Linked DNA regions of Homo sapiens: region 2 is linked to region 1. The links come from fine-mapping of genetic effects on gene expression. A gene starts in region 1. The other region holds a variant in brackets. All regions are shown on one strand. Distances are from middle to middle. Region 1 holds the start of RFX2 (regulatory factor X2). Region 2 holds the start of RFX2-AS1 (RFX2 antisense RNA 1).

Region 1 (14,952 bases):
TCAACAAATGCTGAGTGCCACATTTCGTTGCTGAAACAATTCTAATAGACATAACAGCTCTATATTTGTTCCAAATTGACTTTTTAACAGAGTGAAATCTTTGAAAAGTTCCAAAGCAAAACAAGAGACAAATCAAGCCACTGCAATGGGCTGGGACATAGAATTCGGGATTTCATATTCTCCACTGTGTACTCAGCTCCTAGCAATGAGACTCAGCAGCAGCTCTGTTATAAAACCCCTCCCCGCTCCCCGAACTTTCTGGAAAAAGAACTTCATTTGCAATTTTGGCTGGGTAAAAAGGGAAATTAATTAACAGTAGGGGTCTTTGATTAAAATTTCTTTTGAAATTTGGTAAAGGAAAAGTACATATTGAAAGAGCTGGAATGTTAATTGAGATCAAATCGAAAACATGGAGTTTGAAGGTTATTGGATCTCAGGCACGGGCTGCGTGATTTTTTTTTTTTTAAGAACTGAAGGTTTACCATCTTGATGTAGGCCTTGCCGTCCTGAAGAGCACTCGGGCTCATGTGTTTCATTCACTCACATGTTAAATATGAAGCCCTATGTACAACATAGCCTGTGGGAACTGTGGCAGGGGTAGCTGTCTCCATCCTCCAGAACCTTGTCACAATCAAGAATAGGAAATGAGACGCACAAATCACTACCACCTGTCGAAGTGGCCTTGCAGTGCTAAATCTAAGTGCTGAGGCAATTTGCCTGCAGTCCTTGCCACTTCTTGTTGATTAGTCCAGCAGCCCCCAGCTGGGAGGCAATTCTGTTCACCCTCACTCCCACCTCAGGACATCTGGCAATGTCTGGAAACAGTTGGTTGTCACCACTTGGGGAAAGGGGAGTGTGCTTTTGGCAGGTAGAGGCCTGGGAGGCTGCTCCACATCCTACAGTGCACAGAACAGTCTCCCCAACCAAGAATAATCTGGCCCCAAATGTCAATAGTGCCAGGGTAGAGACTCAGCTCTAGTTTATATTTTCCAACTTAGCTCCTCAATGAAAATCTCAAGTTTCCATGGCAAGAGGGGATTAAAGAAGGGTCTTGAGGGAAGAGTAGGATTTTCTTCAGTAGAAATGACATTCCAGAGAAGGGATAAGAAAGTACAAGACCCGTTTAAAGTATGGCAAGCTCATTTGGAGTAGTGAAAGGGAGGCAACGAAAAGGGAGATGGGGCTGGACTGAAGGAAGCCTTGAATGTGTGGTTACAACAAAGGGGAGGGGACAGTTTGTCCGTTTGGCTAACAAAAGTAGTAAGAAAGTGCCCTTCCGTTCCTCCTGACATAGCTCAAAGAGACATGACAAGGCGGTTGGGAGAAGAGGAAGAGATCAGTAAGAATCCAGAGACGACAGAGCCCAAGGTCTGTGCAAAGAGCCGCAGGGAGACAATACAGGAAGTGATTAGGCAGGAGGCTTTGGCGGCGACCGGAAGGCTGGAGAATTATTGCCTCTGTAACAGGAGAGGAGGGCTACTTCCAGTAAGAAGGACCAAGACTCCAGAGGCCACTGGCACTAGAATAAGAAGAGAAGTAGGCTCATGCAGGCCCACGTAAATCGGAGGAAGGTGGAAGTTTCCTGACCGGAAGTCTAGGTGGGAGGCGCCATGTTGCGGCCCAGCCGCTGCTACTGACTCCACCATCCGGCAGTTCGTGAAATTAAATAACTGCAAATTGATGAGTCTTTTCTTTTGCATGCTGAGTCTCTCCAATGAGCACACTCATCAGTGTGAACCAAGGCTGGCAATTAATTGAATTATATTGATTTAATTGAATTAATTAATTGAATTATATTGATTTAATTGAATTAATTAATTGAATTAATTAATCATATCCATTTCCAGAAGTAATTTTTACTCACCCGCGTCTGTCATTTTAAAGGTCTGCAGTAAAAATACCAGGATTTACACAAAAGATTTGCTCCTGAGACATATCCTGCTTTTAACTTAGGCTCTGAATATCAGTTGCCAATGGTTTCTAACAATTTTAAATTTGTCTAGTGCCTTCTCCCCTCTCAACTGTCCACATGACGATATATTAATACACGTAAATGCTTAACTAATTATAAGCTCCTCAGATGTTTGATATTTCAGGCCCACAAATATTTTCTAAAGAAATGGATGGAGACCCCAGAGAGCTCCTCACTGAAGTCCCTAGTAGGGTGAATTCTTCAAGAAAACGAATAATTCCTTTTAAAATCAGAAGCACATCTTTTAGTCTGTTTTCAGTGGGTCTGGAATTCCAAATATATTTTTTCTCAAGGCAGGCTACATCTGTCTGTATGTATTCTGAGAAGGACAGGAGAGGTGGGAAAAAGGCCTTCGTGTTATTTTCTTTGGGTTTCCACTGGCCTGGGTGGAGCCCGCATACATTTTTGTGGGCTGGTAATTTTTTTGGAAACTGCTTCTAAGGCCTTTCCCCACAGATCACCTTTTGGACAGAAATGTATCCTTGGAAACATGGCACAGTTTCTAAAAGATAAACAGTTTGCATTTTTAAAAAAGTATAATTAAGTGCTGTTGCAGCTTTAGGAATGGACTTCTATATCATTGGTATAATTTCAACAGTTTTCCAGGAGACAGGCGTTCATGAGTCAAGCCTTCTGCCTTTCTGTGGGGACCCAATCCTTTTTCACATGGGACTTGGGCAAGTCTAATCTTTCTGGTTGCCATTGGATCTCACTCTTCATGGTGCTCAGTTCTTGAAGTTATTTCCTCCTTTGCCTTTTGAGCCTCTGTCCAGGTTCTCCCTCTACCTAAGAGTCCCTTTGAGATCTCTGCTTAGCATGGTTCACAATAGCTGTAAGGTGGAAACCACCCAAGTGTTCATCCATGGATGAATGGGGAAACACAATGTGGCATATCCATGCAATGGAATATTCTTTAGCCTTAAAAAGGAAGGAAATTCTGATGCATGCTACAGCATGGATAAGCCTTGAAGACATTGTGCTAAGTGAAATAATCCAGTCACGGAAACACAAATACTCTATGATTCCACTTATATAGTGTATAGTCATCACATTCACGGGGACATGAAAACATGGGCCGCCCAGTCCTGAAAACATGGCCACACCCCTCTCCCCCATCTGCTGCCTGCAGAACACTATTCTCAAGATGCAGTTCAGATCCACATCCTCTTTTCAGACCTTTCCTCAGCTCCAGGGACAGCTGGCCTCCCCACTTTGTCTGCCCTCTGTGCCCTGTAGAAACATCTAGCAAAGCCTATTTGATACTGACTCCTCTTCCTTGTTGGTCTTTGGTCTTTGTAACTGGATAGGATAGCACTTTACTCAAAATAGGCAATGAATAAATGAATGAAGGATGAATGAATGAAGATTGTATGAATGAATGATGAACAAATGTCAGGAGTCTGAAAAGCAGGTCTTCCGGTAAATGACTGGACACCTTTGATCTGACAGGTACCGGCTGATGTGAACTCTACCAATGATCCAGTTTATACTTCGAATAGCATCCAAACTTTGCCCATGGCCTCCAAGGCCCTGCAGGTTGCCCCTGCCTCTTCTGCCTCTCCTTGCTTTGCTCGCCAGGCATCAGCCACACAACTGCAGGACCTTTGTACCTGCTGCCCCCTTCCTGGAAGGCTCTTCCTTCTGAACCCCACAGCGCTGGTTCCCTCTCCTCATTTCAGTCTCAGCTCAACTGTCACCTCCTTAAAAACTGCTGGACGCCAGGAGCCCAGTCCGCATCACACGGCCTTGCTTTTTTGTCTCTACTGTTCAATTTTTCAGCCAAGTTCAAATACAAGAAGCCTCTTATGGCCAGGCACAGTGGCTCACATCTATAATCTCAGCTACTTGAGAGGCTGAGGCAGGAGGATTGCTTGAGCCCAGGAGTTTGAGGCTGCACTCCAGCCTGGACAAGAGAGCGAGACTTCATCTCGTTTTTTATTATGAATTACCCATCCCCCAGTCTCAGACATATACACAAACACATGCACACACGTCCAAAAAAACTGCAGAGATCTTAGTAGAAATAGGCTTACCATATATAGCACATCTGGGCTTCATTATGTAATAAATGACAAATAATCACTATATTGGACCATTACATGTAAGTTCTACATATTTTTAATGGCTTTTCAGCTTTTTCTCCACTTTGAAACATGGACTGTAGCAGGTGTAAATGGACTGACAGCATTTAAAATCTATCTGCTTTATGTATCATCTACAGGCAGTGGCAAGTCAACTGTACTTTTTAGAAAGTCATGGAATTCACAAACATTAAAAATAAGAATAAGGAATTGCCAGGGCATACAACAGGGTTTTCAAACATGCAAGACCTATGTATCATAAAACAGGAATGCACTTTCAGGAAAAAACAACTGAGGTGCAGCAAGGCCAGGCCGTCTGCTCCTAAGGGCCCAACTCAAGTCCTGGCACGAAGACCAGGCCAGTCCCCGGCTCCAAGTGGCTCATTTCCAGACTCTGACTGTGTTGGCATCCAAGAGCCAGTGATAACAGAGAAGGGAAACCAGTCTTAAAATGTTCTCATCTGTAGAGCTGGCCACTCCCCAAAACTCATCATAAATGTGATGTTTGGGGAGTCATTTCAGAGGGACCCATGCCACAACCAAGATGTAGGACTCCAACAACTTTTCGTGCTGTTTTTGTTCTTACGAAGCACTTATGTTTGCAGAGGGACATATTAGTACCCATGAGTTTCTAGGTTAATTTAAGGGAATTTCCTACCCTAAAACAGACAGCATGAGGCCGACCACTCAGTCAAGCAAGATGTATGTACTAAACGCCTCCTTAGCATTTGGTCCTGGTCAGGAAACCACAGTAAAAAACTGATCATCCCAGGCCACTTACTACTTATTTGCTTCATCCTAATAATAATAATAATAACAACAGTTACTTTTTTCTGAGCACCTATTAGATGCCAGCCCCTGTGCTAAATAGCTTATAGAAATTATTTCTAATATAGCAACCACACGAGCTATTATTATCGATTTCACAGATGTCAAACCTTGCCCCAGAGCCACTAAGCTAATAAACGGTGGCACCACAATTTAACTCCTTCTCTGCTGTGCCCCAAAGCCCTGGTCTGCAACACCCAGCACTATGACCTGCAACTTTTCCTTTCCTCTTTCCCCTGCCCCATTCATCCAGATTCATCCAATTTGGGCTCTACTGACTCAGAGATGGCAATATGAACTTAAGGTACCTATGAGCAATTCTTAATTTAAAAAAAATTTTTTTGGCCGGGTGCGGTGGTTCACGCCTGTAATCCCAGCACTTTGGGAGGCTGAGGTGGGCGGATCATGAGGTCAGGAGATCGAGACCATCCTGGCTAACACGGTGAAACCCCGTCTCTACTAAAAATACAAAAAATTAGCCAGTTGTGGTGGTGGATGCCTGTAGTCCCAGCTACTCGGGAGGCTGAGGCAGGAGAATGGCCTGAACCTGGGAGGTGGAGCTTGCAGTGAGCTGAGATGGTGCCACTGCACTCCAGCCTGGGCAACAGAGTGAGACTCCATCTCAAAAAAAAAAAAAAAATTTTTAAGGGCAGGGTGTCGCTATGTTGCCCAGGCTGGTCTCAAACTCCTGGGTTCAAGCGATCCTCCTGCCCTAGCCTCCCAGGTAGCTGAGATTGCAGGTGTGAGCCACCACACCCAATGCAGCTCTCAACTCTTCATTTCTACATATGCTTTCCCCATAAGTGTCAAGGAAACCATTTGTTTATTCATTTCACAAATATTTCTCAATTGCCTACTCAGCACCAAAATTCTTCTCAGCCCTGGGGATATAGAAGTTAATAAAACAGCTCATGCCTGTAATCCCAGCACTTTGGGAGGCCGAGGTGGGCAGATCATGAGGTCAGGAGATCGAGACCATCTTGGCCAGCATGGTGAAACCCTGTCTCTACTAAAAATACAACAATTAGCTGAGCGTTGTGGCACGTGCCTGTAATCCCAGCTACTCAGGAGGCTGAGGCAGAAAAATTGCTTGAACCTGGGTGTCAGAGGTTGCAGTGAGCCGAGATTGCACCACTACACTCCAGCCTGGTGACAGAGTGAGACTCCGTCTCACAAAAAAAAAAAAAAAAGAAGTTAATAAAACAGAAGTTCCTGCCCTTACTGAGCTGACATTCTAACAAGAGGACAGTGATAATACAATAAATACGTATAACTTATGGTGTGTTATATAGGAATAAATGCTAAGGAGACAGAGAAAGCAGGGAAGGAGGCTGAGAGCACCCATTCTCAAGTGGGTGGCCTGGTGACATCTGAGAAAAGGCCTGAAGAAAGTCGGAGAGCCAGCCCTCCAAATACCTGGGCAAAGAGCTTTCCAGGCAGAGCTGGAATGAGCTTCCAGAGGCCAGCAGGGTGGAAGTGCAGTGAGGGAAGGCATCTAGCTTGGCGATGAGGTCAAAGAGGTATTAGGCTTGGCGGGGAGTGGAGTTAGGGGTGACTTTGGCTTTTGCTGCAGATGAGATGGGAGCCATCGGAGGGTTTCGAGCTGAGGGGTATGAAGTAGAACTTAACATGACGCCGCCTCTCCCAGGGTTAACAGGCCCCGTCTGGCTGCTGGGCTGAGAGACTGCCGAGCACCAGTGGTGGAATCATCCGGGCTAGATGCTGGTGGCTGGGACCAGAGGGGCTGGCAGTGGAGGTGGCGAGGCATGGTCAGGTTCTGGGGAACTACTGAAGGTGGAGTCAACAGGATTTGCTGATGGCTTGGGAGAGAGGAGTCAAGGACAGTCCTGAGGTTTGGCCTGAGTAATGGGAAGAAGTGAGTTGATATGTACCAACGAGTTTGGGGGGTGCTTTGGGAGGAGTAGATCTGGGGGGACTATGACAGGCTCAGCTTGGCCACCTTAAGTTTAAGGTGCCTGTCAGAATCCACCTGGATGTACCCAGCAGGCAGCTGGATAGATGTTTTCTGCAGAGAAGAGCTTAGAATCCTAAGCCAGTCCAGAGCTTCCCAGGCTCCAGTTCCCTATAGGCCTGTTAGGGCCTCTCTCTGGACCTTTTGCCACTCCTCCTTCACCTACCCTTATCCCTTTCGCCCACTTCATTCTGGGTCTTCCCCTATATTTTTTTTCCTGGGAGAATCCTTTTGCTGATCTTAGAGTTTCCAAGAAGCAAGTAGGTGGTTTTCAGTTTTTTCTCTAATTCCCAGTGTATATTCCATCGGCCTGCCCATCCATCCATCCATCCATCCATCCATCCATCCATCCAACAAAATAAGACCTTTCACTACACCAGGCATATGTCTACATGAGAGAACATGAGAACATGACCAGCAGAGGAGCTAATTGCCATTTAAATTCTAGAGACGGAGTCAAAACATCTTTTTAAAAAATACATAAGCCCACAACCCCTTACAACAATACTGAAATCCAGGAAACTCTGAAAACTGGCAATTTTTTTGTAAATTTGGCATGGACTCACTTGGTGACAAAAGCTGGCCTGAATTGACATGAAGTTACTTATGGTCCTTCTCTTCCCCACTTCGGGTGAATATTCATATAGTTCAGTTCAGAAATACGGCTGTGTTTAGTGGGAATGCCCTGGACCCATAGTTTCAGAGACAGGCCCACAGACTCGCATTCTCCTCCCCTGCAGTTTAGTGAGTGTCCTGACAAGCAAGATGAGAACTTCCCTTGGTTTTTCAAAAGTTTCCTATTTTACAAGTAAGTGGGTACCTATGGGGGTATACTGTTTAAATGTTTGTAAATATTTAAATATATTTGTTTTATATTTAACATATATTTATATTTAAATTTTATTATATTTAAATATATAAGTATATATTATATATACATGTTTTAATATTTCAATATATATTTTAAAAATATTTAAATATTTAATAAATAGATGTCAACTTTAGAAACAAATATATATTATAAGATGTGGTTCCTTCTGGCCCCAGCATTTTATGAGCAAAACAATCACTAGCTACTATAAAAATCCACAGGTGCCGGCCGGGCGCGGTGGCTCACGCCTATAATCCCAGCACTTTGGGAGGCCAAGGTGGGCGGATCACATGGTCAGGAGATCGAGACCATCCTGGCTAACACAGTGAAACCCCGTCTCTACTAAAAAATACGAAAAATTAGCCGGGCGTGGTGGCAGGCGCCTGTAGTCCCAGCTATTCGGGAGGCTGAGGCAGGAGAATGGTGTAAACCTCGGGGGTGGAGCTTGCAGTGAGCCGAGATGGTGCCACTGCACTCCAGCCTGGGAGACAGAGCAAGACTCTGTCTCAAACAAACAAACAAACAAACAAAAATCCACAGGTGCAGGGGCCGGGTTTGGTGGCTTACGCCTGTAATCCCAGCACTTTGGGAGGCCAAGGCGGTTGGATCATTTGAGGTCAAGAGTTTGAGACTAGCCTGGCCAACATAGTGAAACCCCATCCCTACTAAAAATACAAAAATTAGCCGGGTGTGGGGGTGCATGCCTGTAATCCCAGCTATTCAGGAGGCTGAGACAGGTGAATCCCTTGAGCCTGGGAGGTGCATGTTAAGGTGAGCTGAGATCTTGCCACTGCACTCCAGTCTGGGTGACAGAGTGAGACCCTGTCTCAAAAAAAAAAAAAAAAAAAAAAAAAAAATCCACAGGTGCATTTAAAATTTTGACTCGATTATAATATTAAAGTTAAGCCAATTTAATATTTTTATTAATTATAATGCTAATGTAAAACTAAACAATTAGATCTAAGGAATAAGACCCAGATAAACAATTCCCCAGCACCTGCATTTCTGGTGGACAGAACCATCCTTAGCAGTACTTCAATGATAAACAATGTTAAAAGATGAGTATTTACATTTAAATATACATCACATACACATTATATTATATTGTTGTATTTAAATATACATCACACATACATTAAGGTAATGCGTGCCCTTCACGCAGAAAGCAAAGATCAAGTGATTTCAAAGAACTTGTCCTGTTATTGAGGTAATAACTGTCTCTCTCTTCTCAGATTCAGTGGTTTATAAGAAAGAACTTAAAAAACTAAAATATTTCAGTATTGCTTTTCCTGCAGGAGCAAACTATTTCAGAACTCATTCCCAACCCAAGTCCGTTGAACTGTCACAGAATCACAGAACAGTGATCTTTCCCATCATACATTATAAGTTGCCTTCCGTACCACGCCTGTTGATGAAGAAGCCCTAGTAATTCAAGAACTTAAATTCTTTTCCTAGGGAGGTTACCATAAACTCTTACTTCTCTGGTCAGAGTAGGTGAGTTGTCGTTTCTAAGGTTATTTTAGAGTCAGTTCAAGTCTTTAAACTAGAGCAGGAGAAAGCACAGATGCCCCCCTCCTCCTTATCCAGAAGGACGGGAGGTAAGGATCTTTCCATAAGCAAACAATGTTTCAGGGCACGATGTAAAAAGATAAAATACATGTCAACAATATGTACAGGCAAAAATTTTTTTAAAAAGTCTTTGTTGTTTTGTGTCATTATTATTATTACTGTTACTTTGTTGGGGAACTCTTAGTTGAAACAGAGAATGAAGCTTGTACAAGGTTTGATACAGAGATGAAGCTGACTGAGAGGGAAAAGAACTCATCGAAGCCTGCGCTGGTCATTTATGATACAAAGCAGGAAAATAATTGCAGGGAGGCACAATGCTAACAACACCCCAAAGTAGGAATGAAGCCTGGGGGGGCGGGGGTAAGGCAGCCAGCCCTGGGTCCCGAGCTCCATCTTGCCCTCTCCCCTCCCCATTCTTGCCGCACAACCAGGAGGTTAAAATAGGAAGATGAACCGCGCCGGCAGCCGCCAGAATGGCCCGGGCGCTTGGGGCCCTCGGGGGCCCTTGAAATAGCCACTAGGATCGGGAAATCCAACTTTCCCAGCGGTGCAGCGAGGAAAACCAAAAGGAACGGAGCCGGAGGCTGGTGGCGAGGGAGCGCGGAGGCTTCTCGGAGGGAGGAAAAAGAAAGAAATGAGCATTTGGGGTGTGAGTGAGTGTGTGTGTGTGAGTGTGTGTGTGCGCCCGCGAGCGCGCTGGTGGGCGGTGGGGGCAGGGGGTGGAGTTTAAATCCACAAACACACACACGCACTCGCACTACCTCGGAGAAAATGCCTGGAGCAGTTTAGGTTCTTTAACAAAATAAATAAATTGAAAAAAAAAAAAAGTTTCACTCGCGTTGGTGAAACTTTTCTCCCTTCCAGATCAGTCCTAAGAGGAGAGCTGCGGACGTGCGGAGGGGCATCTTGGGGGCACGTGGAAAGACTGGCGGACGCACGAACCCCTATACTCAGGAATATGGGGTCACAGGGAGAAGGGGAGGGGGTGTCCGAGGCGACCTGAACGCGAGGATTTGGGGCAAAAAGGTGAGAAACAGTTCCCGGGGAAGCTCGCTCGGGGAGTTTGGGATGAAAAGGTGAGAAGGGCAAGAGGGGTTCTCCCCAGGGCAGACGCACCAGCTTTTAGTTAAGGAATGAGAAAAAGGTTCCAGGGGTGCCCCCAAATTCAGTATGTCTGGGAGTCCATTAAAAAGGGGGTCCCCGGGACAAGTCAGATCTAGGAATTTGGGGTAAAAATGAGAAGGGAGTCTTCGAGGTCCCCCCGATGCAAGAAGTTTGCGACTAAGAGTGACAGAAGGGCTCTGGGGTCACCCCAATTTCGGAGGTTTGGGGAGTAAAGTAAGAAGAGGGCCCCAGGTGGCCCCAATTCAGGGAGTTTGAGGGTATGAGTAAAAGAGGGGTCCCCGGGTGTCCCCATCTCAGAGATCTGGGGAGTAAAAGTGAGGAGAGGGTCCCCAAGCGCCCCCAATTCAGAGAATTCGAGGGTTTGAGTAAAAGAAGGGTCCCTGGGTGCCCCCAACTCAGAGATCTGGGGAGTAAACGTGAGAAGAGGGTCCCCTGGCGCCCCCAATTCAGAAAATTCGAGGGTATGAGTAAAAGAGGGGTCCTTGGGTGCCCCCAACTCAGAGATCTAGGGGGTTAAGGTGAGAAGAGGGTCCCCAAGCGCCCCCAATTCAGGGAGTTTGAGGAGTTTGAGAGACGTTCCCGGGGCGCCCCCAACTCAGCGAGTTTGAAGGTAAGCGTGAGAAAGGGGTCCCCGGACGCCCCAACCTCAGGAAGTTTTGTAAAAAGTGAGGCGACGGCACCGCACCTCCCCCGCGTTCAGTCAATAAGGAAAGTGGGGACGTCGCCAGGGTCCCCCCAAACTCCGCCGCGCGCGCGGACGGGGTGGCGGAGGCGGGTCCCGCGGGCGCACCACCCGGACGTTTGGGGTGAGCGGCGGGGACGTGCTGCCCGCCCCCCGGCCCCCGAACGGGGTCCCCGCCGCCCCCCACACTCCCCGGCCGGGCTGGGCCCGGGGCGGTCGCATCGGTCACCTGGAGTTCGGGCCGGGAGTTCGGGCAGCGGCTCCCGCGGCGGCGGCAGCGGCTGCTGCGTGTTGGTCCCCGTTGGTAAGTAACAGTCTCCACGGCTACAGTCTCTATGGCGGCGGCGGTGGCGGCGGCGGCCGCTCCTCCTCCGGCTCCCGCCGCCAGCCAGCCTCGCGCAGCCCGCCCGCCCGACGGGGCGGGGCGTTGTTACCGGCAACGGTTACCAGGCTCCGCGCCCCACCTTCCTAACGGCCCGCCCACGCTCGCCTCCAACGGGCCCCCAAGAGGGCGGGGCGCGAGACCCTACGGCGTTCCATTGGCTGTCTGCAGAGTCTGTCGGAAGGAGGAGGCGTTCCCCCTTGAAAAAGAGTGCGAGACTCGGCCAATGGCCGCGAAGAGGGGCGGGTCTTGGCGGGAGGCGCGCGCGGCTCAGAGGGTTGGCGAACCGGTCGCGCGCGCGGCGCCGTGGGTTGGTGGCGCGTTTTGGGAAAGTCCAGTTTTAGGGGACCCAAGGGACTCCGTTTACCCCACAGGAGGAGTGTGGGACATGTGGGAACAGTCTGATCAGGGGTCAGCAAACTCTCGCTCGCCGCCTGTTTTTCACGGACCCCCAGCTGAAAATTTAAATATATATATATTTTTTACATGGTTAAAAGAAACTATCGGCCGGGCGCGGTGGCTCACGCCTGTAATCCCAGCACTTTGGGAGGCTAAGGCGGGTGGATCACGGAGTCAGGAGATCGAGACCATCCTGACTAACACGGTGAAACCCCGTCTCTACTAAAAATACAAAAAATTAGCCGGGCGTGGTGGCAGGCGCCTGTAGTCCCAGCTACTTGGGAGGCTGAGGCAGGAGAATGGTGCGAACCTGGGAGGCGGAGCTTGCAGTGAGCCGAGATCGCACCACTGCACTCCAGCCTGGGCGACAGAGCGAGACTCCGTCTCAAAAAAAAAAAAAAGAAAGAAAGAAAAAAAAAGAAACTATCAAAAGGAGCTTTTGTGGGGTGTGAACCTGATAGGAGACTCTCTTTTATTGTATTGGGCCCAGTATTTTGAACTAGTTTAAAGATTGGCAAACTGCGGCCTGCGGGTCAAATTCTGCCTGCTTGGGTTTGTAAATAAAGCTTTATTGGAACATAGCCACGCCCATTTCCTTGAACAGCTTGGAAGGCTGCTTTGACACTACAGGGGCGGAGTGGAGTAGTTGCGCAAAGACGGCATGTCCCACGCGAAGCCTAAGATATTTACTATACGGTCCTTTACAGAAAATGTTTGCCAAACTCACCAGCCCTCCTCTCAAGCTGGTAGATTCAGCTACGAGTAGGACAGAAACAGACAGATCCTCATAGAACTTTTATTCTAGTGAGGGAACATTGACAGCAAACAGAATAAAGAGGTAAACATATAGTTATTCGAGACAAGGGGCTGGAAGAATAGGAGAAAACAACTTGTACTGAGAAAAGGCAGGAGATTAGGCTTCAGCCCCACTCATTCATTCAACAAGAAATCATATTAGTGAGCACTGATTAAATTGCTATGTGCCTGAAAGTGATCTAAGCATTTTTTAAATATGCAAACTCATTAAATCTTACAATCGCATCTTTAGAAAGATGCTAGGCATTATCCCCGTTTTTATTTGTTTTGTTTTTTCTTTTTTTTTTTTTGAGACAGAGTCTCTCTCTGTCACCCAGACTGGAGTGCAGTGGTGCGATCTGGCTCGCTCACTGCAACCTCTGTCTCCCGGGTTCAAGTGATTCTCCTGCCTCAGCCTCTCAAGTAGCTGGGACTACAGGCGCCCGCCACCACGCTCAGCTAATTTTTGTATTTTTAGTAGAGACGGGGTTTCACCATGTTGGCCAGGCTGGCCTGGAACTCCTGACCTCAAGTGATCCGCCCGCCTTGGACTCTCAAAGTGCTAGGATTACAGGCATGAGCCACCATGCCCGGCCTTTCCCCATTTTTCAGATCAGGAAGCTGAGGCCCAGAAAGAATGAGTGAATTTGCCCAGTGTCAAACAGCTTGTGAGGGATCGGAACCCTAGTAGTCTAGTGCCAAAGTCCATGCTCTTGATCACTAGATGGGTGGTTTTCAAACATTTTTGACCACAGCATACAGCAGGAAATACATTTTACCTAGGGGCTCAGTCCACACAAACATATCTATAACTAAAACAAATGATACTGTAACTAAAGTACCGTGAAATGATACTTTAACGCACTCTGATATTTCCTGTTCTGTTTCATTTTAATTAAAATGTTGACGGTGATTTGCTAAATTGATTTCATCATCTTCTAATTTTTTTTTTTTTCTTGAGACAGAGTCTCTGTCGCCCAGGCTGGAGTGCAGTGGCATGATCTCGGCTCACTGCAACCTCCGCCTCCCGAGTTCAAGTGATTCTCCTGTTTCAGTCTCCCGAGTAGCTGGCGTTACAGGCACGCGCCACCACGCCTGGCTAATTTTTGTATTTTTAGTAGAGACGGGGTTTCACCGTGTTGGCCAGGCTGGTCTCAAACTCCTGATCTCAAGTGATCCACCCGCCTCAGCCTCCCAAAGTCCTGGGATTACAGGCAGGAGCCACTGCGCCTGGCCATGTGACAGATTCTTAAGCTCAAGTGGTCTACAGTAATCAGTCCCTTTCATTCAATTATTAATTTAGTCAAAAATATTTATTGAGGTCCAAGTGCAGTGACTCAGCAGGAGGATCGTCTGAGGCCAGGGGTTCAAGACCAGCCTGGGCAACATAGTGAGACCTTATCTCTATAAAAATAAAATAAATTAGCCAGGCGCAGTGGTGCACACCTATAGTCCCAGCTGCTCAGGAGGCTGAGGTGGGAGGATCGCTTGAGCCCAGGAGTTCTAGGCTGTGGTGAGCTATGACTGTGCCTCTGAACTCCAGCTTGGTAGACAGAGCAAGAACCTGTCTCTAATATATATATATATACATTTATATATATACACACACATATATACACACACATATATGTGTGTATATATATAGTATATGATGATAGATAGATAGGTAGATAGATAGATAGATAGATAGATAGATAGATAGCGCCTACTATTTGCTAGGTGCTAGGGACACAGGTGTAAATAAAATAGATAAAATTCCCATGGCCATAGGAAAAGTGATACAGTAGTGGCTTGGTGGGAGAAGTGGGTGGGTGGGGCTTACCTTAGATAGAGCAGCCAGAGATGATCTCCCTGGGATATCCAACAATCCTGCTTGGCCCAAGACTAAGGGGTTTCCCAGGATATGGGAATTTCAGTGCTAAAACCGGGAAATCCCCAAAGCGGGAAGAGTTGGTCACCCTGGGTCTCTCTAAGGAGCTGACATTTGAGGCAACGTTGGAGTAACGAGGAACAAAGGAAAATAGTTTGGAATTCGAAATCCCTGGGGTGAAAGCTGATGTGGAAGAAACAGAAAGCAGGTCCTTGGGCACAGCTGGAGCCAATGAAAGGGGAAGAGCAGTGAGTGGGTGGGGTGAGTGAGTCAGGGGATGATATGATGGCCATCATTTTATTGGAGGCCGTAGGGAAGAAGTCACGATCAGACTGGGAAACCAATGGAGGGTGTCTTTTGTTGTTGTTGTTGTTGTTTGTTTTTGAGCTGGAGTCTTGCTGTATCG
Region 2 (15,412 bases), 46 kb before region 1:
GAAAATGAACAAAAGCAATATTTCTTCAAAACTGAAATTTTTTCAGAAGAAGAAAGGAGCTATCAAGCCATGAAAAGACATGGAAGAAATTTAAACACATACTATGAAGTGAAAGAAGCCAGTCTGAAAAGGCTACATACTGTATGATTCTAATTAAACAACATTTTGGAAAAGGCAAAACTATGAAGACAATGAAAAGATCAGTGGTTGCCAGGTATCAGAGAGAGGGATGAGTAGGCAAAGCACAGAGGATTTTTAGGACACTGGAACTGTTCTGTATGGCACTATAATGGTGGACACATGTCATTATACATTTGTCCAAACCATAGAATGTACAACACCAACAGTGAACTCTCGAGGAAACTATGGACTTTGGGTGAAAATGCTGTGTTAATGCAGATTTCATCAACTGTAACAAATGTACAACTCTGGTGGGTGATGGTGATAATGAGGGAAGCTGTGCATGTGTGGAGGTATGGGGTATATGGGAAATCTCTGTATTTTCCTGTCAATTTTGCTGTGAACCTAAAACTGCTCTTTAAAAAAGCAAGTCTTGGCCAGGCATGGTGGCTCATGCCTGTAATCCCAGCACTTTGGGAGGCCGAGGGCGGGTGGATCACCTGAGGTCAGGAGTTTGAGACCAGCCTGGCCAACATGGTGAAACTCTGTCTCTACTAAAAACACAAAAATGAGCCATGTGTAATGGCGGGCACCTGTAATTCCAGCTACTCAGGAGGCTGAGGTGGGAGAATTGCTTGAACCAAGGAGGCAGAGGTTGCAGTGAGCTGAGATTGCACTACTGCACTCCAGCCTGGGTGACAGAGCAAGACTCTATCTCAAAAAAAAAAAAAAAAAAAAAGCAAGTATTTAAAAAAAGTTAATTAACAACTTCTCCTGGAAAGACTGATAAGAAAAGAAAACCCAAATTGCCAATATCAGGAATGAAATGAAATATATCACTAGAGATTCTACAGAAATCAAAATGATAATAGAGAACTATTACAAACAACTTTAGCCCATAAATTCAATAACATATAAAATGAACACTTTTTTAAAAACACAACATAACAAAACTGACACAGATGAAATAAAAAAATGTGAATGTAATACATATAACAAAAAAATTGAATATGTTATTGGAAACTTCCCTACACAGAAAACTTCAGGCACATATAGTTTTACTGGTGAATGCTATCAAATACTGAAAAAGGAATTATTACACAAATGCCATCAGAAAATAAAAAAAGAATACTTCACAACTCATTTTATGAGGTCAGTAAACCCTGACACCAAAACTTAACAAATATATTACAAGGAAAGTGTTTAGACTAATATCTCTTATGCACATATATGCAAAAATAATTTAAAATATTAATAAATCAAATTCAACAATATATAAATAATATAACCCACACTTAGATTATCAATTGATTTTTTTTTCTAATGGAGCCTCAGCTCTTTTCTTCCTCAACTGGATTTTCACAAAGGTGTCAAGGCAATTCAACAGAGAAAGAAGTCTTTTAAACAAATGGTGATGGATCAACAGAATATCCATATTGGGGAAAATAAATGAACCTTGACCCCTACCTCACACCATACATAAAAATGATTTCAAGTTAGAACATGAACTTACTTACACACAAAAGCTAAAACTATAAGACTTCTCAGAGAGAACATAGGAGGTTAGACAAAGGTTTCTTAGAATGCACAAATCAGCATAAAAGAAAAACTTGAGAAATTAGATTTCACCAAAATTTAAAACCTCTGCTCATTAAAAGATTTTGCTAAGAATATGAATAGGTAAGCCACAGCCTGGGAGAAATATTTGCAAAACATGTATCTCATAAAGGGCTTTGATCCTAATATATCTACATCTATATCTATATATATAAACTCCTACAATTCAATATAAGATGACAAATAACTTAAAAAAATGGTACTTCACAAAGCAAGATATACAGATGCCCAAAAGTACATGAATAGTGGTCAGCCTCATTAGTCACTAGGGAAATGCAAATTCAAACTATATCAAGATATCACTAAATACTCACTAGAATGGCTAAACCTGACAAGTCTGACAACATCCAATGTTGTAAGTACATGGAGCAACTAAAACTCTCACACACCCCCATGTGTAGATATGAATGATATGACCACACTGGAAAGAGGTTTGGCAGTTTTCTAGAAAGTTAAACCTGCCCTTTAACCCAGAATTCCTCTTGTAGTTTTTATCCAAGAGACATGAAGACATATCTCTTCAAAAAAATAATAACAACTTGTATAAGCATGTTCATAGCAGCTTTTTGTTTGTTGGTTTTTGTTTTTTGTTTTTGAGACAGGGTCTCCCTCAGGATAAAGTACAGTGGCACAATCACAGCTCACTGCATCCTCAACCTCCCAGGCTCAAGCGATTCTCCCACTTCAGCCTCCTAAGTAGCTGGGACTACAGGCACGCAGCACCATACCCGGCTAATTTTTGTATTTTGGGTAGAGACAGGGTTTCACCATGTTGCCCAGGCTGGTCTCAAACTCCTGGGCTCAAATGATCTGCCCACCTCAGCCTTATTCATAGCAGTTTGATTCAGTCACCAAAAAGTAAAAATAACCCAAATGTTCCTCATCAGGAGAGTGGACGAGAAATTGCAGATTATGATGATTTAAAGATTCATATTGAAAACCCTAAAACAACCACTAAAAATGGAAAAGAAGAGCATAGCTAAAAAGCTAATAGAGGAATACTACTGGAATACTCTTCATGAATAGAAAGGAATTAATTACTGAAATTCACAATGCATGGATGAATCTCAAAATCATTACGCTGAGTGAAAGAAGTTGAGTCCAAAAGAGTAGATGAGTAGAGTGGATTAAAACTAAAGTTAAAAAAAAATCATAATAGTGGGTGGGGGGGCAGGTGGCGGTGGGCGAGAGTGACTGGAAAGGGACAGGAGGGGACACTCCAGTGAGATGGACGCATTCTGTATGATAATACAGTGTGCGGTTACATGGAGTCGTGATTTGTCAAAATTAGCCAGCTAAGGTTTGTGCACTTACTGTATGTGAATTTTAACAATGACAACGAAGCCTGTAAAAATACAAGGGTGGAGAGGAGGACGGAGAGTGGGTACAGGTATCCAGGTGTTATAAGAATGGCAGGACCCTGACACCCTGTAGAGGGTGGTGGCTTCATAAGTTTCATTGCATTGTGTATTTACTTTGTGGATGTTTGAAATTTCCATGATAAGGAGTTAAACAAACACACACACAAGACACCAGCGATGAGCAGGAGTGGCTCATGATCCTGGCGGTGCTTCCAGGTAAGCGCAGTAGCTCACATGGTCCTCCCAGAAGGGGTGATGCTGGATCCTGAGTAACTCCTCCACCTGGCAGAGGAGAGCGCAGCAGAGAGTGGGCAGAGGGCAGGGCCCCGAGGGCGTGGGTGTACTCAAGGTAAAGTCCACAGGGCACAGGGACGCACACTGTGGAGCACCTTTGCAGCACCCAGTTTGGGAACCCCTCAATCCAGTGCAAGACAGTAGATGTGAGTGAGTGGAGGCCATGCTTCTTCTCTGAACCTGAATCTGCTGTGGGAACTTGGACCCATTCAGTGACTGCCCTGCCGTCCTTGCTTTCTCGCGTTCCTTTGTCCTCTCTTCTGTTTTTCTTCCTGTGGCGAGGACCTGGGCAGTCTTACTTTGACTGCCTTCCCCTGTGTCCTCTTAGACTGGGTTACAGGAGCCTCGGAACAGCCAATATAAAGGGGAGGGGCCGCAACACGACCTGTCACCCAGCCTGGCCCTGCCTGGCCAACGGGCTTGGCTGGCCCAAAGCTCCCTCCCTCGTGCCTCAGAAATATGCCCGGAGTGCTGTTTATAAGCTGAGCACGTTTCATTTACCATCTGGTCCAAGATCAGGGCGGGCATGAAATAAAGGGGAAAAGCACAGAACCAGCGGCGCAATTTCCCCTCCTTGGCCGGCACCAGCCTTTGGAATCCACGAAACGCTCATTTGACCTTGAACGAACATTCAAGTGAACCAGATGCGCACTTGACCTTTTGGAGCCACTGCTGAGTCAAACGCGCCAGTGGGAACATCTCCCGTGGCTTCCTGACTTCATGTGAGGGGGCACAGGAGAGACGCAGCTAGAAGCAGCCCTGGACTACGGCCGTGATGAATGAATCTGCCTGGGCACAAAGGGAAGAGGCTTCTGTTTACAGAAAAATACTCCCATCACCTAGTAACCAGCAATGTCAGGAAAGGAAATGCAGAAAACGCTGAGAGCAATTTCTGGGCCCGTTCCTGGCTGAGCCGCTGACTCACTGCGACCTTAAGCAATCTCTCTTCTATTCCTGTTCCTCCATATGCCAAATGGAGCTGTCACCTGCCTCACATAGTTCAGATCAGTATTTAGACAATGTTTTGTCATCTTTGGTGATAATTGGGGCAGAGTTAGCTGAGTGGTTTTAGTTACCTTCATTCTGATTGGCTGATGAGCCTCGGTGTTTGGGAGGCACGTGGCCTCCTCCGGCCATCAGCTCCTCCTCTCCTGGTACTCGCTGGCCTCCAGATGGTACCAGAGTTCATCTGCCCTAAGAAAGCAATTAATTTCCTCCCTCTGAACAAGAAGGAACAAGCCCGGAGTGCTCTCAGGAGTACCAGTTGCTTCAAAGCCCAGATTCTGTCCTGGTAGCTTGTCTTAACACTCCCAGTGTCATTAGGCTGCCCAGAAAAGTCTTGTCCGTTTCCTTCTCCCGGCTCCCCTCTGAGGGCCAGGTCCTCGGAGTAAGTGATGCGTGTTTTAAGATTCTGTCCTCACTGTTCAGGCTTGTGTGGCCTGGCCCCACGCACAGGGAGGACACCTCCAAGCCATCTCCTTGCCGAAAAGTGGATTCTCGAACCCTCCTTGATGGTGGAACCATGTCCTTTCTGGCACCAGGATTACTCCCTGTGGACCCAGTTGGTTCTCAGTGCCAAGAGTTATTACTCTGCCCTGATAATCACCAAAGATGACAGTGTGTGTCCCCACTTGGCACTGTGGACATTGGGGACGGATCCATCTCTGGGCTGGGGCCGTCCTGAGCACTGCAGGGTGCTGAGCAGCATCCCTGGCCTCCGCTCACTCCATGCCAAGAGCACCCCCAGTTGTGACAACCACAGATGTTCCCAGACATTGCCCAGTGTCCCCTGGGGCGCAGAAGGACCTCTGTTCAAAATGGATTTGTGATGTCTAAGAAGGGGTCTGGACAAACAGCCCCCGAGTAAAACAGGCCTGTAGACAGGGTGAGAACAGGAAGATGAAAAAGGAGAGTAGGCAGGATGCAAAATCATGACAATTCAGCCAGGCAAGGAGTGTGAAATAAATGAACAGGACCCTCTGAAGGCTACCCACACATTCCAGAGCAGCAGGCTTCAATGCACACCAAGGGCAACCATCGTTCCCTCCGTGCCTAAGCCACGGGGGTGCCCGTCATTCCTCACTTTTGGGTTTTTTTTTTTTCTCCTCTTGTAGCAATGGGCTTTCAAGGACTGGAGCTGGCTCCGAGCTTCTCTGAAATCAAGTATCTTCAGAATTCAAATTCCTTTTTCTTTTCGTAAGAATTGGGCTTCTGTTCCTGTTTTCTTCTCAGGAGCCAAACTTTCCCTCCTTTCTCTAGAAAAGGATCAGAACCAAGCCCTTGACAACTGGCCTGAGAAAGGGCTGTTTGCAGACTGGAAGGGGGATGGGGGAGTGCAGACACCCAGTAGGCCCTTAAGTCGCAGGTTCTAATCTTCAGAGGCTGAGAGCAGGCTGCGCTGACAAGGCCTCCCCTAAGCCAGGGACCCCCGTCTTAACAGTGGAAACACCCGTTCCTTCCCCTTTAGAAACCTGACTTTTTTTTTTTTCAGACAGAGTCTTGCTCTGTCACCCAGACTAGAGTGCAGTGATGCGATCATAGTTCACTACAGCCTCGACCTCCCTGGCTCAAGTGACCCTCCCGCCTTAGCCAACCGAGTAGCTGGAACTATAGGTGAGCACCAGCACGCCCGGCTAATTTTTAATTTTTTGTAGAGACAGGGGTCTTGCTATGTTGCCCAGAATGATCTCGAACTCCTGGACTGAAGCAATCCTCCCACCTCGGCCTCCCAAAGTGCTGGGATTACAGGTGTGAGCCATCACGCCTGGCCTTGATTTGACTATTAATATAAAAATTGTCCAAACTAAAGTATGGTTACCTCATCTCTGATGTGGTCTGATTTTAACTGCCATCAATAATATACCAAATTCAGGGTGAATTTTGAATTAAAAAACCACCAAGTCTTCATGACACTTTCACCCAGCAAATACTCTTTTGGCAGGCAACCTGATTCCACTGCTTCTAGCAATAACTTCAACACCACAAAACTTGGTTTCTAGGAAATGGAAATTCTCCTTAGGTTATGGGGTGCCCTAAAGTCCAACACATTGGAGTGAAAGGTAACTGGATACCAAGCTAGAGGCCGAGCAGCAGCTGGTGCTCTGTCCCCCAGGAGTGGATATCTGTCCCCCAGGAGTGGACATGAGAGTGTCACACACACACAGACGCATGTATACACTCCCCACGTATGCATATACACAAATATACATGGACATACACATATACACAAACACACACACACAAACACATGTACATACATGTATACACAAAAGTACACATGCAGACACACATACATGCACACACATACACCACCTGACGCAGGATAATATGAGAAGAATGGCCAAAACCACTCAGAAGACACGTCATTTTCTTACTCCATACATTTTTCTATTAAATTGAATGTTGACTCCTCCCACTAGACAAAAACAACGATTCTTGTAGTAAAAAGTGA[T/TG]GGGGGGGAGCCTGTGTTCACACATCCACACACATGCCTTTGGGAGAAAGCCTCAAAGTACATTTTTTTCTCTGTACTTTTCTCCTTGCAAGATTCCATTCTAAAATTGCAACTCTTTTGTCCCCCTTTTCTGACACCGCCTCTGCACCTCCTGGCTCTCAGCCATGCCCCTGCCATGCTGTCTCTTCCACTTCCTTCTACCCCACAACTCCTTCCCTGTGCTGACCTCCCCCCACTATCTCACATCCAGACTGTCTACATCCAGTTCCTTGCATCTTCAACTCCCATTTTCCCATTATCTATGATGGCTTTTGTGCTCCAACAGCAGAGGCGAGGAGCTGAGACAGACCCCAGCAGAAGCCTAAAATATGTACTCTCTGGTCCTTTACAGGAAAAGGCTGCTGGCCCCCTTCCTGAAGGTTCTAGAGCCTTCCGTCTCCCTCCAAGGACCCACCGATCAAGCCTGCAATCTGGCTTCTGCACAGGCTCCATTCTTTCAGCTTATAGACAAGCTCACATCACACCCATTTGAGGAGAACATCCACTGCCACTGAAACCCTGCTCTTTATCCTTTATCTTCTCTTGAGATATGGATTCTTTTTTATTTGTAAGTCCAGACTCTCAGGAGGGAGCCTCTGTCGTCTTCTCTCTGCATTCTCATGTCTGCCCACTGTTCTTCTTGAGGTCCTCACGGGGCAGTTTTCGGGCCTCCTCTGAACTTGTACTCTCTGCAGTGTTTCGTGTCGCTCCTCGAAGCTCTGTCCTCCCTCGTGTCTGGGTGCTGTTGTCATCTGGTTTCATTTTTCCCCCTAATGATACCTTCTCAGTCCCCTGCACTGGTCCCTGCTTGTCTCCCACCCTCGGCCTCCACCCTTGTGCCCCTCCCCTGTCACACTCAATGTGGACGACCTCCCGGCACCAGGACTCCCAGCACCACCCAAATCACCTGACTCCGGCTCCCTTCTCCAGCTGCCTCCCAGACCTCTCTGCCTGGGCGCCCCTCAGGTGCCTCAACAAGTCCAAGGGAAACTCTCCCCCCGCCAAAATTGCTCCTCTTGCGTTTCCTAAGCCAGGGGGCTGTTCAAGGCACTGGGCATCTCCCTGCGCCCCGGGACACGTGTCGCTGGTGACTCAGCCTGCTGTCTCCACCTGATACCATCTCTGCCTCCCCCTTCCTTCCGCTCCTGCTGCTACTATTTCAGTGAGCCCCTGCCTCCCTATCTCCTACCTGGAACCACCACATCCGCCTCCTAATTGGTCTCCCTGCTTCCAGCCTCTGCCCTCTCCCAGCCAATTTTCTTTCACATTGGGGTGATTCAAAAGATAACAATGTCTTCTCATTCCCTGGCTCAAAAAATCCTCCCAAGAATTTTCACCGCATAGACAGTGTGTGTGCTAAATCAAGGGATTAACTACCAAGGTGGGGGTTCCAGACCATTTCGATGTCGAAAAGGTCTGCTGTCTGTAGGATCCCTTCTTTAGAGGGTTGGAGCCTACCCTTCACACTTACAAGTCTGGCTGATCAAGACCTTGTCACCTGAAGACTGTCCGTAGGCAGGCAGAGAGCCCTGCCCCACAGAATGCATCCAAAGAAACGGAACATTTGGTTCCCTTCCTACTCCCGGCCCCGCCTCTGGATCTTACTGGGGAGTCGGCTGCAGCCGGGGGAAAAAGACTTTGCAACCTCCATTATTTATATAAATAAGAACAAATGCCAAGGGGAATGCCGAGTGGCTGGGAAGGAGGTATGACCACCCGGAGCAGAGGGAGGAGGCCAGGCTTCAGGTTCAAGTCCCAGGCTTGTCACTCGCTTACTGACTGTGGCAGTGGCCTTGGTTTCTTCATCTGAGAAAGGGGCTGGGAGGGGGAAGGGAATGATATAGCTGATGTGCCCACCCCGAGTGTGGATCCCAGCAGGTGCCTGATCAATGAAATATGTCCTAGGCAGGGGCGGGAGGATCCATTGAACCCAGGAGTTCGAGACCAGCCTGGGCAACATAGCGAGGCCCCATCTCTACAAACAAACAAACAAACAACAACAACAACAAACTGGGGGCCGGGGAAGGTGGCTGATGTCTGTAATTCCAGCACTTTGGGAGGTTGAGGCCAGAGGATTATTGAGGTCAGGAATTTGAGGTTGAAGTAAGCTGACTGCACTACTGCACTCCAGCCTGGGAGACAGAGGAAGACCCTGTCTCTAAAAAGAATAAACAAGTAACAAAACAAAACAATGAAAAACAACCAAAAAACCAAACTAGCCGAAAGAAAGAGGGACACAACCCCAAGGACAACAGCAGCGGCAGTAGCTGGTGGCCAGACCGAGCCCCAGACTGCGGGCAAAGCTGGTATACGTGGGGGCTGACTGACTCTGAGGAAGCCGTGACCACATCACCTCTGCTCTAGACACAACACACACGCAACTGAGGCTCAGAAAGGGCGAGCCATGAGCTGAAGGTCACAAAGCAGGAAGAGGCAGGCTAGACTGGAACTGGCTTTGGCTTGGGTTTGGCTAAGTCACTCCTTTAGGAGGAGGAAGCACATGTTTTTATGACTAGAGCCTCCGGAGCCACAGCTTCCCGACCTACGTGGAGCTTCCGTCTCTTTTCTGTATATAAATCGCTTCCCCAACCCCATGCCAAAGAGAACTCCAAATAACAACACAAGCTTAGCTTTTGCTTTAGAAGTTTCTAGAATTTAGTTGATGCTATTGGAGCTATCATGAACTGATACAGTCCCCGTGGGGAGTGACTGTATGAGCTCGAACTGGACTTGGACATTTCTCCAGCCCTCTGTGGTTCCAGTTGAGAAGTAAGTGCTCTTCATTCATTCTCAGTAACCAGGAGGAAAAGGTAAATCAGCGTGACTTAGAATGATCGTTCCCTCTGTCTATCCCCACAAGCAGTTCCCTGTGCGTTTAAAGCAGTGGGTTTTTCAGAATGTAAAGATCTGGGGGTCGCTCCCTGGCCAGTCGCGCATATTCAATATCTGCTCGTCCTTTCCCTCCCCTTCCAGAGACCAATGTCACCTGTCTGTCCTTTTCTGGTGCCTGGCCCTTGCTGGGGTCACCCACATCCCCTCCCGTGAGCTGCTGTGTCTCGTATCCCTCCTGTCCTGCCGCTCTCGCTCTTGCTCCTAGGCCGCCTTCTCCCTCATGCATCCAGCTACTTGGTTTGAAACTCTCCCCTGGCGCCTGCTCTGTGGGGAAAGCCGGGCTTCCTCTGATTCCGGATGGAGTGTTTAAATGAGATGTCCACACAACCCCCAAGGACCCTCTGATTCCAACGGAATTGGAGCCTACGCCTGCCAGACCCCCAGGCCTGAGCGCCAGCCCTTCACTGATCAGCTAGCCTCTGCCTGCAAGTCTAAGGTCTGCAGAATCGAGGGAGGCCAGCATGGCACACAGCGGTCCAGACTCGCAGTGACAAGGTGGCTGCAGTGCATGGAGGGCCACCGGAGGCTGGCACTGGTGTCTCCTGCACACAACGCAGGGAGGGTGAGGATGGGGTCCATGCACCTGCCAGGGTGGGGATGGACAAGACCCCTCCAGCAGGGCCAGGCAGGCTGGGCAGCCCTCTGTCCCTCAAAGTCCACCCGCCCATGACAGCTAAGATTAAAGTGACTGCTGCGTTGAAGAAGGAGGGAGGCAGAGAGACAGCAGCCAGCAGCTCCAAAGGGGATCCCAGGCAAGTGATGAGCAGTGGGGAAACCCTCTCTCCAGTCAGCTTGTCATGTCATACAGGCTTTCCTGACCTCAGCAATGCGGATATGAGGGGCAGGAATACACTCTGGGGTGGGGCCGTCCTGGGCACCGCAGGGTGCTGGGCAGCATCCCTGGCCTCCACCCACTCCATGCCAGGAAACCCCCCGACCCCTGTCTGACAGCCACAAATGTCTCCAGACATCGCCCAGTGTCCCCTGGGGGCAGGACCACCCCCATGGAGAACCACACGTCTAAGGCCACACCTTTACTCCACACAGCATTTCCAGATTCACCAAACCACTCTCCGTGCTTGTCCCCTCAGATTACTTCATGTCATGCAGCTGTTCACATCTGGCTTCTTGGCCAGCCAGCCCTTCTTGAGAAAACAAAGTCTGGATCTATGTCATCTCAGCAGCCCCCTCACAGATCCCTCACCCCAACCCCAGACCCTACGTAGCACATTGCCTGCAAAGATGCTCAAGACGTGTTTTGCAATGAACAAGAGAATGAGCAGCCCGCCTGCTCCGGGCTGCTCACCTGTTCTAGCCACCTTCACCATGTTGGCCTCCAGCTCCCGTCTTCAGCTGAGCACAGGGGCCTGTCCCAGGATTCTTGGAAGCGGCTTCCTAAGGCATCATGCTTTTGTGTTCTCCTTCTCTTACCAGCCTTTCTTTCCCTCTCACGTTTCTCTCCCTTTCTGACCATGAGCAGGGCTGCAGTGCAGCTGCTGATGGTCAAGATGAAGATGGGGAATGTGCCAGTGAAAACCTGGCATGCGGAGGCCTCACCTCACTCACCCTCTCCTGTCCCAGCTTCAAAATCTTTCAGAGCGACTCATGCTGCCAGAGGGTGGAGGAGTGGACCTTGAAATGACAAGTGACAGTTCCTCAGCAGTAGCATCTCCTGCTTTCTCAGCCTGGTGACCTGACCCGGCAGCACGCCCACTGGGCACCTGTGCCCACCTGGGGATGGGGTCTCGTCCTGCCTGTGTGACCCTTCCTCCTGACAGCCATCTCTAGAGACAGCCAGTGAGGGCAGGGCAACAGGCAGTGCATGTTCTTTCCACATCTCCATGACTGATTCTGGCCAGGAGGAGGCTGGCTTTCTGGATCCCACCAACATCACATAGGGGACCTTTTCAATCTACCTCCTACCTCCCCTCCAGTCGTGATTTGATTCTGGAATTTAAGAAGCGGAGAAAGAGCCTAGTTCAAATTCAAGAATTTCCATCTAAAACCACAGCATGGAGAGGCCCCTTTAAAAACCACCTAACCCAGCTCTTTCATCAAACAGATGAAGAAACTTACCTAAAGATGTTAAGTGGTTTGCCCAAATTGCAAAGCCTGATATATGGGAAAATACTTCCATGGGAAATAAGAAAATGATAAATTTAAAAAAAATTTTAAATGAGGCTCTAATTCCTGAAAAATGACTTACTTAAACTGGGGACTGGGCAGAAAATAATATTGTAGAAGGTAGAACAGCATTTCTTTGGGAGGATTTATCTTTTTAAGTATATAGTGGTCTTCTACCACTATCCTACAACAGGTTGCAGGACAAATAATGTATTTTAATCTTTGGGGGAGTCTTTGTGTAAGTCAGACCTTATTCATTTTCATTCCAACAACACTCGCAGCCATTGGATCCTAATTATCACATCTAATAAGGCTGATGGCTAATCAGCTTGCCTTTTTAAGAAAAAAAGGCCGGGCACGGTGGCTTATGCCTGTAATCCCAGCACTTTGGGAGGCCGAGGCAGGTGGATCATGAGGTCAGAAGATCGAGACCATCCTGGCTAACACGGTGAAACCCCGTCTCTACTACAAATACAAAAAAATTAGCCGGGTGCGGTGGCGGGCGCCTGTAGTCCCAGCTACTCGGGAGGCTGAGGCGGAAGAATGGCGTGAACCCGGGAGGCGGAGCTTCCTGGGCGACAGAACGAGACTCTGTCTCCAAAAAAAACACAAATGACATTCCATTATAAGTTTCTGCTGCAAAAGAAAGTTGGGAAATTTGTTTAGATACTTTAAATAGTCCTAAGATTAGCTGAAATGCCGGTAACAAACGTGCAATGAACATTTTCTTGGGGGCATTCAGCAACAAAGTGAATCGTCCTTAAAAAAAATCCATACAACTAAAGCGAGTCTCACCACGGGAACCACAGGAGCTGTTTTAGTGAGGGGCTGGAGTGTCTGTTACAGGCGGCACTTTTGCGGCTGTTGCTGCATTAGTCAGATTGCACTCGAGATGAATGAGGAAGAATAAAGTCTTCACCAAAAACCTGTCTTGGCTAACAGTTCTGAATTTATAGCCCTGGCAGTGGGGGCGGGGGCTGGGGGCGGGGCTGGGAGGAGGGGAAGAAATGTGTCACCCGCTCTGAATGAAGTTCAGGGGTGGTGTTTACCTAAGCAACAAACCCTTGTCAACAATCGCTATCTCTGGCTTGCCAGCGGAGGAGGTGGGGGAGTGAGGCTGTTTTGATCAAAATCCAACCTGTGGCTGCAAAGTGCCCATCAACAGGGCACTTTGTTAGTGGGAACGTGCGACCTCTCTTAATAAACATAACATACACATCCCACTGAGGGCCACGGGTGGACCCAACTTCTTAACAGGAACATTGAGCACATGAAACCAGAAGGTGCTGGGTCCAATTTCCACCCTCAGCCAACCCTATCTGTGAATGTCTCTACATGTGAGCCAGCCAGGGCTCAACTCTTTGCTCTTCTGAAATTCTTAGGCAGCAGAAATGAAGGCATCGTGCTGAAAAGCGCTCCAGAAATTGCGGATTTATCAGTGATGTACGGTAGTAGGTTGGACAAGTAATGATTTTCTGAACACCAGGAATTAGATCAAAAAAGAAATTCCACTTAAGACTAAAATAAGTCTCCAGTTGAGAGCAGTCTAGGACATATTCGAATGGCCAGAAGTTTGTTTCAATGGGGCCTCTGCGTTTGTGCAGCCTGGGAGTCAACATTACAATATTGGTTCTTTCAAGCAGATCCCGAGTGGATCCATGTCTGCCTGTTGTGGCAAATCAAACTCAAATTTAATCAGAGAAAAATATATGCAGATGTTCAATTAAAACCTGGAGTCCGCAGTCTTGGCACTGTTTGCCCGGCCCTCATTGTTTGCTAAGTAACAACGGTTGCCAGGGGCAACGCAGTCCACTCCCGTTTCCAAGAGCCTGTTGCTGGGCAACCGGGAGAATACTTCCCAAACCAAACAATGTCATCCCGGAGCAACCCCCTCTATCTCACATTAACCAGATCTAAAAAAAACCCTCTCAAATATGTAATCTATTATTTTCAGAAGCCCTAAGAGAAAGGCAAATAATCTCTTCTCTATAGTAACTGAGGGGAAAACAGTTTACCATATTTGTTCTGAAATAACAAAACCCAAGGAGGAACAACTCTCTCTGAGGTAAGAGGGCATCACAGGAGGGATTTCAATCCTTCCTAGTACTGGGAGGAGAAAGTGCCCTTTTCTCCAAGAGGAAAGAATCTATTTATCATCAAACAAACAATGTGGGAGAGTTCATAGCTGCACAAGTGTTTTCTGGGCGAAGTAAAATGAATCATGGATTAAGCTATTTGGAAAAAAGTGTGAAAACAGAGGAGTTGATACCAAATTAAAACGACTTTTGGAAATATCATGTACGTATGGAACAAGTGCAAAGGGAACCACTGACTCAGCGTCAGAAATGCCTTGTGGGGCTTTGCCGGGAGGGACTTACAGTATATCTTTGACATCACTGCGCCGGCTCTTCCCTCCCTACCCGGAGAGAGGAAGACTTTTCTAAGAGGAAGCCAGGCCACATCAGATGCCCCCAGATGGCAGGACACACAAGGGACACATATCTCCGGAAAGAGGAGGCACATGGTTGGGCAATCTCGACCCATGAAGGGGGAAAAGAAAAGGGCTAAACTGAAGCTAGTGCAGCTTTTGTTCTGCCTGGAGCAGTTCAGGCTGAGCATGGCTTCTCTGAGGCTTTGGGACCAGGAGAGGGTGAAGTGGCACCACCACCTTTCAAGGGGAACACAGAGCTCTAAGCAGTGCTCTTGTTTTTGGTGGGCCCAGCCAAGGATCTTAAAACATTTTGATAGAATGAGCAACATGTAGCTGCAGCCTCGATGGGTCAACATTTTGGATGATAAAAGCACACAATGCTGATAGATTTGTGCATGACCAAGCATACCTTTCAAGGAGCTCTCAGCGGAGGTTTGCCCTTTGAGACAGACACAGTCAGTGCACAGAAACTGTTTTTTTAAGATATCATCCAGGAGTCATTCCTAGAATAGGAATGGAATAGACATGCCTCCCTGAGAAGAAAGGAAGACAGATTCTATACTGTTAGAATTTGAATCTGTGTTGCAGGGAGATGAGGAATTTGAAGCCAGACTCTTGGGCTGTTAATGTATGGCTAAGTGGTGATGTGGTGACAACCTTGAATGCTAGTCCTGGAGGTCAAATCACCAGCAGCTGGTGCCATGGGAGGCTTTGCTTAGGGGACACGGCTGGGTTCTGCCTGGATGCTGCATCCCAAGGGAGGCATTGAGGTGCGGCTGTGAGGACTCCAAACCCCATGTCCAGAAGGATGAGTAACAGAGATCCTGTGTCATTCATTGATTTCAATAAAATATTTATTGGATCCATAGCATGGGCCTGGCATTGACCAGTCATCAAAACACAATTCCCTGCCCTCATGGAGTTTCTATTCTAGACCATGCGGGAGGATAGGAGCATATGGACAGTAAACAAGGTAAGTGAGAAAAATATGTCGTACGTCAGATGACACCCTATATCATATGGTGACAAGTACCAGGGGGAAAAGGAAGCAGACAGAAGGAGTGCTGGGATAGGAAGGGGTTG

What was found. PIP is the estimated chance that this variant, and not a neighbour inherited with it, causes the effect.
Region 2: its variant is fine-mapped to the expression of RFX2 in whole blood (TOPMed, PIP 0.95).

Annotation. Positions count from the first base shown.
Region 1 is chr19:6,099,064-6,114,015 of GRCh38, forward strand. It overlaps RFX2 (regulatory factor X2), which reads right to left and starts at 11,437. Exons shown (of 18, transcript NM_000635.4): 1 at 11,330-11,437. RefSeq lists an enhancer at 9,951-10,451 and a silencer at 11,299-11,758.
Region 2 is chr19:6,053,118-6,068,529 of GRCh38, forward strand. All of the region lies in intron 1 of RFX2 (regulatory factor X2), which reads right to left. It overlaps RFX2-AS1 (RFX2 antisense RNA 1), which reads left to right and starts at 9,481. Exons shown (of 2, transcript NR_199041.1): 1 at 9,481-9,651. RefSeq lists enhancers at 12,765-13,266, 12,781-13,075. The variant T/TG (reference allele first, on the strand shown) is at 6,844.